3 linked regions of the Homo sapiens genome follow. The protein of the gene in region 3 purifies or fractionates together with the protein of the main gene of each other region. This does not show direct contact. Each region holds a gene or a part of one and is shown on either strand. Other genes may lie near its edges. The genes, in order: C1orf174, LIN28B and ERI1.

Region 1 (3,732 bases), on a different chromosome or scaffold from region 3:
CACTAATTTCTTAATGTTGACAATGTCCTGTAGTTGTTTAACATTAGTGGAAGCTGAGTGAAGGCTACATGGCAACTCCCTGTACTATTTTATTATTATTATTTTTTCAGAGACACTGTCTCACTCTGTCACCCAGGTGGAGTGCAGTGGTGCAGTCATAGCTCACTACAGCCTCAGACTCCTGGGATCAAGTGATCCTCTCACCTCAGCCTCCCACATAGCTGGGACTACAGGTGCACACCACCACACCTGGCTAATTTTTAAAAAAATTTTTTAAAGATGGGCTTTCGCTGTATTGCCCAGGCTGGTCTTGAACTCCTGGGCTCGAGCGATCCTCCTACCTCAGCTTCCCAAGTAGCTGGGATTACAGGTGTGAGCTATCACACCAGTTTCTTTGTACTATTTTTTGCAACTTTCTGAATGCCGAAAATTATTCCTAAATAGTTATTTTAAATGTTATGTCTTTAATTAATTTCTTTCTTGTTATTAGAGGAGTTTGCTTTGCATTCAGGATAAAAGAGAGGTGGACCAGTTTGTTAATATTAAAATTTGTGAGACAGTCGCTAGCTGCATTCAGCTAATAGAATAGGAGTCTAATTTGAGGAAGAGAAACTTTGGTTTCCTCATGTTACCTTTTTTTAAAAACTTTGACAACGTATGAAAGTTGGAGAGCCTTCTAAGGAAGGGCATGTGCTGCTTATTCTAAACACTTTGAAGTTGACTTAATTTCCACTAAAGGACAAATGGTGGCTACTAGAAATATACAAGATAAGGGGGACAGATCGTCCCAAGCCTCCAAAATCGTGGAAATAGTAGATCCTGTATCCTAAATCCAGGCACAGTTTCATTTGGATTTACACATTCGGGCCACAGCTGTCTCCACAAAGATGATAAAATCCTGGGAGTGGGAGGGGCGGTCTTCGGGTGTTCTTTAGGTGGGAAATTCTCGTCTACATGTTCATGCTGCCTTCCTGAGAGCACTCTCTGAGTGGCTCTCAATCTCTCTAGCTCACAGGTGCAGTGCGGTCTTCAGCGCGCTTGAAAGCACGAAGTTGTTCGGCAGCCAGGTTGGCCTCTGCCCAGGAAGTTGCTGGTTCCACGTCTGCCAAGACAGCATGTCTGGTGAGCCCTGTTACCGTGGAGAACGCCAAGATCCTGACTCGAGGGTCCATTTTTATACAAAATTGCCACTCCAAGATGTGTTGCTTTAGAAAAATATCGACTGTTACTTATCTGCCAGAGGGGGACTATTGCAGATGAAAAGGTGACAGCACTGTAATTGCCTTCAGAGAAAGACACACTCTGCAGGCCAGGGCTGGCTCTCCTAGCACCCGCCCACCCGTGTGTGTGTCTAGACCCGGGCTCTGATCCTAGCACCCGCCCACCCGTGTGTGTGTCTAGACCCGGGCCCTGATCCTAGCACCCGCCCACCCGTGTGTGTGTCTAGACCCGGGCCCTGATCCTAGCACCCTCCCACCCGTGTGTGTGTCTAGACCCGGGCCCTGATCCTAGCACCCTCCCACCCGTGTGTGTGTCTAGACCCGGGCCCTGATCCTAGCACCCGCCCACCCGTGTGTGTGTCTAGACCCGGGCCCTGATCCTAGCACCCGCCCACCCGTGTGTGTGTCTAGACCCGGGCCCTGATCCTAGCACCCGCCCACCCGTGTGTGTGTCTAGACCCGGGCCCTGATCCTAGCACCCGCCCACCCGTGTGTGTGTCTAGACCCGGGCCCTGATCCTAGCACCCGCCCACCCGTGTGTGTGTCTAGACCCGGGCCCTGATCCTAGCACCCGCCCACCCGTGTGTGTGTCTAGACCCGGGCCCTGATCCTAGCACCCGCCCACCCGTGTGTGTGTCTAGACCCGGGCCCTGATCCTAGCACCCGCCCACCCGTGTGTGTGTCTAGACCCGGGCCCTGATCCTAGCACCCGCCCACCCGTGTGTGTGTCTAGACCCGGGCCCTGATCCTAGCACCCGCCCACCCGTGTGTGTGTCTAGACCCGGGCCCTGATCCTAGCACCCGCCCACCCGTGTGTGTGTCTAGACCCGGGCTCTGATCCTAGCACCCGCCCACCCGTGTGTGTGTCTAGACCCGGGCCCTGATCCTAGCACCCTCCCACCCGTGTGTGTGTCTAGACCCGGGCTCTGATCCTAGCACCTGCCCACCCGTGTGTGTGTCTAAACCAGGCTCTGAGGCCACTTGTGCTCATCGCTCTGCTCTTAGCGTGCTATGGAGTCATGCTGGCCCATTGCCGTGCAGCCTCACCGCCAGAGGCTTGAAGAGAAAGGCAGAGTGGGTGGGGAAAGGAATCTCATGCCGTCTGCCGTTCACCCTAGCCCAGCCATCGATTCCGAGGAGCGAGTTCCTGAACTTACCGGTGAAGTAGAGCCGCTTCACGGAGCCTACAGTTGAGGGGTTAGGACTTGGCCATATGCCAGCGTGTAGCACAGAGCTTTGCTCATGATGAGGTGCTTGGTAAAATTTTGTCGAAGTCAATTTCACAAATATTTCTTGAGCACCTACTGTGTGCCAGGCACTAATTGGTGAATAAAGCAAAGACCCCTGCCTTCACAGAGCTTATGCCCTAGCAGAAATGAATGAAAGCTGGATTCTTTTACTGTAATTGTATAATATATAAATATATGCTTCAGAATTCACCTGAGGAGCTGTAACGCCACTAGGGGAAACTGAAAGTGTAGGAGTGGTGTGGAGCTGTAACGCCACTAGGGAAAACTGAAAGTGTAGGAGTGGTGTGGGGTGTGTCTAGATTCAGTCTCGCTTGTATTTTGTCCCTTGGTGGCAAAACAGTGAAATGACGATCTGTGAAAGTTGTGGTCACAGCATCTTTATCATTTCCGATGTGAGAAGAAATACTAGCCTCTGGATTGAGGCCTGTTTTATTTGCTAGATATGTCTGGTTCCCCTTACATTTTTTTTCTTGACAGACTTCCTCATCCCACAAAGCCACAGACACGCGAACGTCCAAGAAGTTCAAATGTGACAAAGGACATCTTGTGAAGTCAGAATTACAGAAGCTTGTCCCTAAGAATGACAGCGCTTCTTTGCCAAAAGTGACACCTGAGACCCCTTGTGAAAATGAGTTTGCTGAAGGCAGTGCCTTGCTTCCAGGCAGCGAGGCTGGCGTTTCTGTGCAGCAGGGGGCTGCAAGTCTTCCTCTCGGTGGCTGCAGAGTTGTGAGTGACTCTCGCTTAGCAAAGACTAGAGATGGCCTGTCCGTGCCAAAACACAGTGCCGGGTCCGGAGCAGAAGAATCCAACAGCAGCTCCACTGTGCAGAAGCAGAATGAGCCAGGGCTACAGACAGAGGATGTGCAGAAGCCACCACTTCAGATGGACAACAGCGTCTTTCTAGATGACGACAGCAATCAGCCAATGCCCGTGAGCCGGTTCTTTGGAAACGTTGAGCTCATGCAGGTAAGAGCGGCGCCTTCCTCCTCCCGTGGGTACTCAGGCAGCAGCTGCACATTCAGGTCACACACTCCCCACTCAGTGCAGGTAAATAATGCCTCGACACAACATTAAACATAAACTAATCATTTTAACCCACGAGGAGAAAATGAAACCGTTGGCTAATTGGGGGCTCTCCCTGCATCTCCCGAGCTGAGAATCACTGCTCTCGGGAAAGGTGTGTTTCCATGAAATCAGGTTTGTGGTTTTTTTGAACATCCACCCCGCGCTTGCTGTTAATTTCTTTTGTTTTGAACCCAGCA
Region 2 (3,732 bases), on a different chromosome or scaffold from region 3:
TACTTTTGATTTTCAAGTGGTGGTGCATTTCTCAGACTCTTTTTCATGTATTTAAGTCCTACAAAGACATTCTGATTCAATTTAAATGTGAAATGTGAATTGGGTACATATTGAAGATGTAGGCCTTTCTCCTGTTTTAAAGATTATTGGTGTACTTCTTAAATATTTTTCTCCTGCCTTTTTAAAGAGCAGTTTTAGGTTCACAGCAAAATTAAGAGGAAAATACATAGATTTTTCCATGTACCCTTGCCCCTTCAAATGCATAGCATCCTCCATTATCAACATCCCCTACCAAGAGTGGCACATTTGTTTCAATTAATGAATGTACATTGACACATCATAATCACACAGAGTCCATAGTTTATATTAGTGTTAGCCTTTGGTGTTGCATGTTCTCGCTAATTTTCAATTCCTCTTTTATTTTAAAAGACTATTCACAACAAATGAATGCAGTAAATCAAAGAATAATTTTTTAAATAAAAATATGAGTGTCAAACCACTTACAAGTATTCAGTGTAACCTTTTAAAGCATGTCTTTAACTTATCTTAGAGTTCTTAGGTTTCATGAGAAATTAAAAGCTTATTTGTTATCTGCGTTCACCTTGGTAGATTAAAAATTGAGTCCTTCACTGTAATTTTTGTCGCTTTCAGGCAGCAACAAAACATTATTTGGATTTGGTTTAATTCTTCCTATTCAGAGATAGTTAGAAATATTACAGATAGTTATGTCTATTTTAACCGAGCAGCTCTTTTGGTTTGTGATTAACTTAAAAGTTGCTACTTAAAAATAAGATGCACTGTGTTGTTTTTGTTTTTTTGAGACTAAGTTACCCAGGCTGACCTGGAACTCCTAGCTAGTCTCAAGAGATACTCCCTCCTCAGCCTCCCTAATAGCTGTGACTACAGGCATGCACCACTGTGTCCAGCTTGATGTACTATATTCTTACTTCTAAACTGAGAATAACCTAAACAAAGTGAAGATACTTCTGATCAATTAAACTGGAAAGTTATCTTAAATGTTATATTCTATAGACTTGATTTGGAATGAAATATGGGATATTTTATCATTATCAAAGACTATCAGTTCTTTATACTTTGAGCTATTTCCCCTGAGTTTTGAGTAACAGGAAGTTCAGCTTATTTAATACATAGTTACAATAGATGGCATTGTACCATATACAATGCATAAGAAATTCAACTGATTTATATTCCTCCCTAAAATAATTGATTATAGCATCTTCTAATATCATAAAAGTTGATAACAGTAATGTGTTTAAGAAAGTACATTGCAGGTCAGTGGGGTACATTTAAAAATGATCTTTTAATGAGTAGTTTATCAAACAAGTAATGAAAGTACCATGTTGCATTTTGATACATCAGGATACATCTAATCATTTATCTCAAATTGGAGGACAGTCTGATTATTGCTTCTTCTTTTCCAATATCTAAATATTTGACAATTTGGAAATATTTTCTAAATAAGATTTACAAATAATTGATAGATTTAGTGTTATAATTTTTTCTATAATTTTCTGTTACCTGGAGTAATACCTAACTTTTAAAGTTGTTTTGAAGAGTAGAGGTAATGTTATATAACTGCCTAGTAAGTGTCTGTTGAGAAAATAAACTAATGTAAACTGGTCTTTGCCAAAAGAATAATGGATAAGTTATTTTCAGTGGTGTATACTCATGGTGGATAATTAAGCTGGTCTTTTATGTGCTTTCTTTAAAATTGGCCAAAATGTGTTGTATATTAATAGTTTAATTTCCATTACAGTTGATGTTAAGGCTTTTCATTATAGTTTTGTGGCATTGAATATTGTTTTTGTTATTTAAAATAATTCTTTTGGCTGAGCATGGTGGCTCATGCCTGTAATCCCAGCACTTTGGGAGGCTGAGGCTGGCAGATTGAGCCCAGGAGTTTTAGACCAGCCTGGGTAACATGGCAAAACTCCGTCCCTACCAAAAAAATTAGCTAGGCCTGATGGCATGCACCTGTGGTCCCAAATATCAGGGAGCCTGAGGTAAAAGGATCACTTCTTGAGCCCAGGAGACAGAGGCCACAATGAGCTGAGATCACTCCATTGCACTCCAGTCTGGACGACAGAGCAAGATGGTCTCTAAAATTATTATTTTTTTTGAGATCTGGTCTCACTCTGTTGCCTAGGCTAGAGTGCAGTGGCAGGATCATAGCTTACTGAAGCCTTGACTTCCTGGGCTCAAGTGATCCTCCTGCCTTGGCCTCCCAAAGTCCTGGGATTACAGGCATGAGCAACAGTGCCAGGCCTAGAATATTGTTTAAAGTATCAGGGTGTAAACTGCAGCTTGGAAATATTTTTGTTATGCAGATATTTTGGTTTTAATAATTGTTGTAACATAAGATTTTACCTGTGTAAGATTTTACCTGTGTACATATGCATGTGTATTCATTATAAGCTAAAGAAAAAATACTGTTTTAAATAGGCCTGTTGTGATAATTTAATACCATTTTTTGGTTAATAATTATTTAATCTTTGTAAGATAGTATAGAATGATAAAGATTCTGGTCAAATCAGTATTCAAATCCCAGTTTATTAGATACCTGTAAGGGAAGTAAGTTACCTTGTCAGTGTCTCAATGGCCTATAAATCGGAGGACAAAAATAGTACCCACTTTGTATAGGGCTGTTAGGAGGATTACATGTTATTACATATGTAAAGCACCTAACACAAACTTGGCAGATAGTAGGGACTCAATGTGTGTTGTACATAATTAGTATTATAAAGGAGAAGTAGTGTGGTATTGTGAGAAAAAAAACCATGGGAATGAGTGTTTGGCTTCGGCTCTGCCAGTTGGTTGGTTTATAACTTTTGGCTGGTCACTTCCAGGGAGCTTCAGTGTTCTTATGGGTAAAATGTGATAAATAATATTTTTCATCTTTATTTTAGAGGGTTATGGTAAGGGTCAATTGAAATAATACACATGAAAATAATTTAAAAACTGTAACAATCTCAGGTTTTAGTTTTTATCTTTTTTTCAAGAGCTATGTTTTTATTAATCATTTTAATTATAAGAGTTTTTCTGGTTTTTGTTTTGAGACAGAGTATTGCTCTTGCTCAGGCTGGAGTGCAGTGGTGGGATCATGGCTCACTGCAACCTCAAACTCCTGACTCAAGCAATTATCCCACCTGAGCCTTCTGAGATGCTGGGATTCTAGGTGTGCATCACCATGCCCGGCTGATTTTTTTTTTTTTTTTTTTTGAGACAGAGTCTCGCTACATTGCCCAGGCTGGAGTGCAGTGGTGCTGTATCGGCTCACTGCAAGCTCCGCCTCCCAGGTTCACGCCATTCTCCTGCCTCAGCCTCCAGAGTAGCTGTGACTACAGGCACTCGCCACCACGCCCGGCTAATTTTTTGTATTTTTAGTAGAGATGGGGTTTCACCGAGTTAGCCAGGATGGTCTCAATCTCCTGACGTTGTGATCCGCCCACTTCGGCCTCCCAAAGTGCTGGGATTACAGGCGTGAGCCACCGCGCCCAACCTCTGGCTGATATTTTTTATTATATTTGTAGAGACGGGGTCTCCCCATGTTGCCCAGGCTGGTCTTGAACTCCTGGGCTCAAGGGATCCTCCCACCTCAGCCTGCCAAAGTTACAGAGATTTACAGGCGTGAATCACCATGCCTGGCCTCACTCTGGTTTTCTTTAGTTTTTTTTTCTACCTGGAAATTAACCTTTATCCTAGTAGTGTCTG
Region 3 (3,471 bases):
ACAACCTACCTGTTCCTGGAATATCAGGTTAAGCCAAAGTCTACAACGGGAGGCAGCATAGCACAGAGATAAAGAGCAAGGCTCAAGCCATACTGCCAGAATCTACAGCTCCCACTACTTAAACTTTGGCAACTTAACCGCTCTGGACCTCAACTTTCCCATCTGTAAACTGCAGAGAATGCCTCTCTCCATCACCAGATTCTTACTAAACAATGGAGTAAAGTACTTAACAGTGCTCCATAAATGTCTGATGCAAGTATCATTGTACCTTAACATTCAGCTCTACGCTCTCATCACAGTCGCATTTCTTGTTTGTTGATGGAACTTATATATTGCATTACATAAGGGAGGTAAGGGTAGGCAAACTTTCTCCATAAAGGGCCAGACAGTAGTATTTTTTGGCCTTGCTGGCCAGATGGTGCCACTGATGCAGCTATTCAACTCTGCCATTGTAGCACAAAAGTGGTCAGAGATGACATGAAAACAAATGAGAATGGTAGTTCTTTCCAAAACTTTATTTAGAGAAACTAAAATTTCGTAATTTTCGTATTATACAAAATATTATTTTGAGCCATTAACAAAAGGGAATATAAAAACCATAGTTTGTAGGCCATACAAAAATAGGCAGCAGCCAGATTTGGCCCATGGGTGGTAGTTTGCTGACCCCTGCTCTAGATTAACAAATTTACGGGCTTTGGAAGCTTTGTGGGGCAAGGAGGCTTGATATACAGGTTGGTGGTGCAGAACAAAGAGGAAATTTCTAAGTATAATAGAAAAAAGATGTAATGCTGTCCTTCATGTATCAACGCTGGATTCAACTATGTGCAAAACATTTTATCATATGTCGCTGGAATCAAAGATGCAGAAGTCACAGTCTCTGGTCTCGAGGAGCATATACTTCTCCATGGTAGCTTAGAAATGGAAAGTCTTCCTTCAAAGTACAATACATCCTTCTCAGACTTTGACAATGCACCCGTGCGTGCTCATCTGTGAGGCAGGTAGTTTCTTTGGCAACTACAGCTGAGGCCAAACATGCATTATTATCTTGACCACCTGTGCTTCTTCCCCTCCCCAGTAATCATACCAGTTTTTCTCCTGGTCTCCAAATTATTCTGTTTTGCATTATCATTTTGGGGATAATACTTGGGATGATATACTAAAAGTCAACTGGTCACATCTTTTTAAAAATTACCATTTTAATTAGTCTTCAGAGATACCCTCTCTCTCTTAATAGGTAACATGCTTGTGACGCCTGTGTTTTTTTGTTTCAATCCAGGCAGAAACTTCTCCCTAGGAGGCAGGATAAATGGATCTATCTCAAGGCAACAAAGACACATCACAAAAACATTTTTTTCAGAGCAAATGTTAAATACTTGATCCAACAGAACACAAATAAAGATAAAATGTAATGCTCTATTATATACTTCAGTTGGTTATAAAGATTGCGGATTTGAAAAAAATCAGCAGAAATCCACTATGTCAATGTCAGAGCATATGAAGCATAGAATAAAAGTTAACACAGCTAATAATAAATTGTTTGTAAATACTAAGTAACTATTAATAAGAAACAATAATAGAATATACTAATATTGTTTTCATGGACATCCATCTCTTACGTGTTTCCTTGTAAAAAGTTGTACTATTTGTCTTTCAAAGACAACACAATAAAAGTCAGAGTAAAAAGCAGTACTCTCAATGTTTAGTATCATCTCATCAGCAAAATCCCAAATCAAATTGGAGGGGAGGACAGAGACTCAACAGAGGAATTAAAATGGGTTAAGACAGTAAAATCTATGGCTGAGCGCAGTGGCTCACGTCTGTAGGAGGTCAAGGTGGGCAAATCACTTGAGGTCAGGAGTTCAAGACCAGCCTGACCAACATGGTGAAACCCCGCCTCTACCAAAAATACAAAAATTAGGCGGGTGTGGTGGCACGCGCCTGTAATCTGAGCTACTCAGGAGGCTGAGGCAAGAGGATCACCTGAGCCCAGGAGGCGGAGGTTGCAGTGAGCCAAGATCGCACCACTGCACTCCATCCTGGCAGACGAGCAAAAACTCTGTCTCAAACAACAACAACAACAAAATAGGGTACTGAGAGCTTATAATGTTGAAGTTCTTAAAAAGAAATACAACATGAGCTTGTTGGTACTTGGCGAAAGTGAAAACAGGCAAAGAAATTAGCAGATAGAGCTAAAAAAACTGGAAACGTAATATTTCCTCGTCATCATCAGATTTTCCAATTGCAGTTTCAGCTATTCAGTATTCAGTAATACTTTACAGGTTATTGTACAGTGCTATCTGGGATGCACAAACATCTCAGCATACATCCCTCTTATCCTAAGAGTTAACTGTATAAACTTAAAGCACTTAGATTTCCTTATTTTACTATAATCTGTAACAGTTCATCTAGGAACACCACACTCTCATATGCCTTCTGTTATTTACACATTATTCTTTATGATACTGATTATATGACTACTGCTGAAAAGCAGAAATTCATTGGCTTAAGAAATCTACTGCCCTATGTAGAGAATTCCCACGCCAAGAAAAATGTCTACTTTCCTGCTTTTCACCCTATATGATATAGGTTTGGAAACCTTTGAGGAAATTCATCTGGTTATAAAATATAAATCTTTAGAATAAAGTAGCATCACAATTTTTATTAAAAGGTAAAAGGCAGGAAGCAAGCAATGTCAATGAAATTGTTCCCTGAAAGCTACAAGGAGAAAAATTCAATTCTGAAAATACATGGGTTTAGCCTCTAGATAAGAGTTTTACCTTATCAAGTCGAAATGCACATTTTAGTTTTTAGAATTAGTTAAGAATTACTCAATACTTAGCAGCCATTTACTATGTAAAATCAGAAAAACAAGTCTTTTATTGACTAACTTCACTAGTGGCCAATGAAGTTTTTTAATAACAAAAACGTAATATATGGTAGAAAGTATTGACTTTATTAACCTCACTTACGATACTGAATACAAAGTAAAATTAGGTGGTGACCCTTAATTTTCAGTCTATTTCAAAGCATGGTCCCTCAGATTTAAGAATTAAGGCATACATATGTCAAAAAAGGAAGGCGAATCAAACAACCAAATCCAAAAAGACCCCAGTGATTTATGTATTATGAAGTTTGAGCTACAGCCCTTATGATATTCCTTTTAGTACTTTCTTCTACGTTTTCATTAATTCCTTCAGTAACTGGATTTTTAACCAAACCCTATAATCCATCATAATTCTTCCAATTATGAGTTGAAAAGAAACATAGGCAGATATGTATACCAAGTACCTTACGAAATTCACCACATACATGGTGAACTTCACATATAAACTTTGAAAATCAAAAGGACTATGATATTCTTGAAATCCAAAGGCTAGATAAGATCTACCTTCCAATCATTTCTGCATTTTAAGATATGGTTTCATCTAGTGATGTTAATAAAGAAACACATTACATATTTAAACACCAGTA

What was found.
Region 1: the proteins of ERI1 (region 3) and C1orf174 purify together in Homo sapiens (co-immunoprecipitation; one large-scale study listed by IntAct). This does not show direct contact.
Region 2: the proteins of ERI1 (region 3) and LIN28B purify together in Homo sapiens (co-immunoprecipitation; one large-scale study listed by IntAct). This does not show direct contact.

Annotation. Positions count from the first base shown.
Region 1 is NC_000001.11:3,890,273-3,894,004, reverse strand, and holds part of C1orf174 (UPF0688 protein C1orf174), read left to right. Parts: intron 1-1,008; coding exon 1,009-1,122; exon of another isoform or gene 1,123-1,256; coding exon of another isoform or gene 1,257-1,264; intron 1,265-2,225; coding exon of another isoform or gene 2,226-2,379; intron 2,380-2,947; coding exon 2,948-3,436; intron 3,437-3,732.
Region 2 is NC_000006.12:104,963,400-104,967,131, forward strand, and holds part of LIN28B (protein lin-28 homolog B), read left to right. Parts: intron 1-3,732. UniProt on the Homo sapiens protein: Suppressor of microRNA (miRNA) biogenesis, including that of let-7 and possibly of miR107, miR-143 and miR-200c.
Region 3 is NC_000008.11:9,030,368-9,033,838, reverse strand, and holds the end of ERI1 (3'-5' exoribonuclease 1), read right to left. Parts: 3' UTR 1,291-3,471; coding exon of another isoform or gene 1,228-1,290; 3' UTR 501-1,227; downstream 1-500. UniProt on the Homo sapiens protein: RNA exonuclease that binds to the 3'-end of histone mRNAs and degrades them, suggesting that it plays an essential role in histone mRNA decay after replication.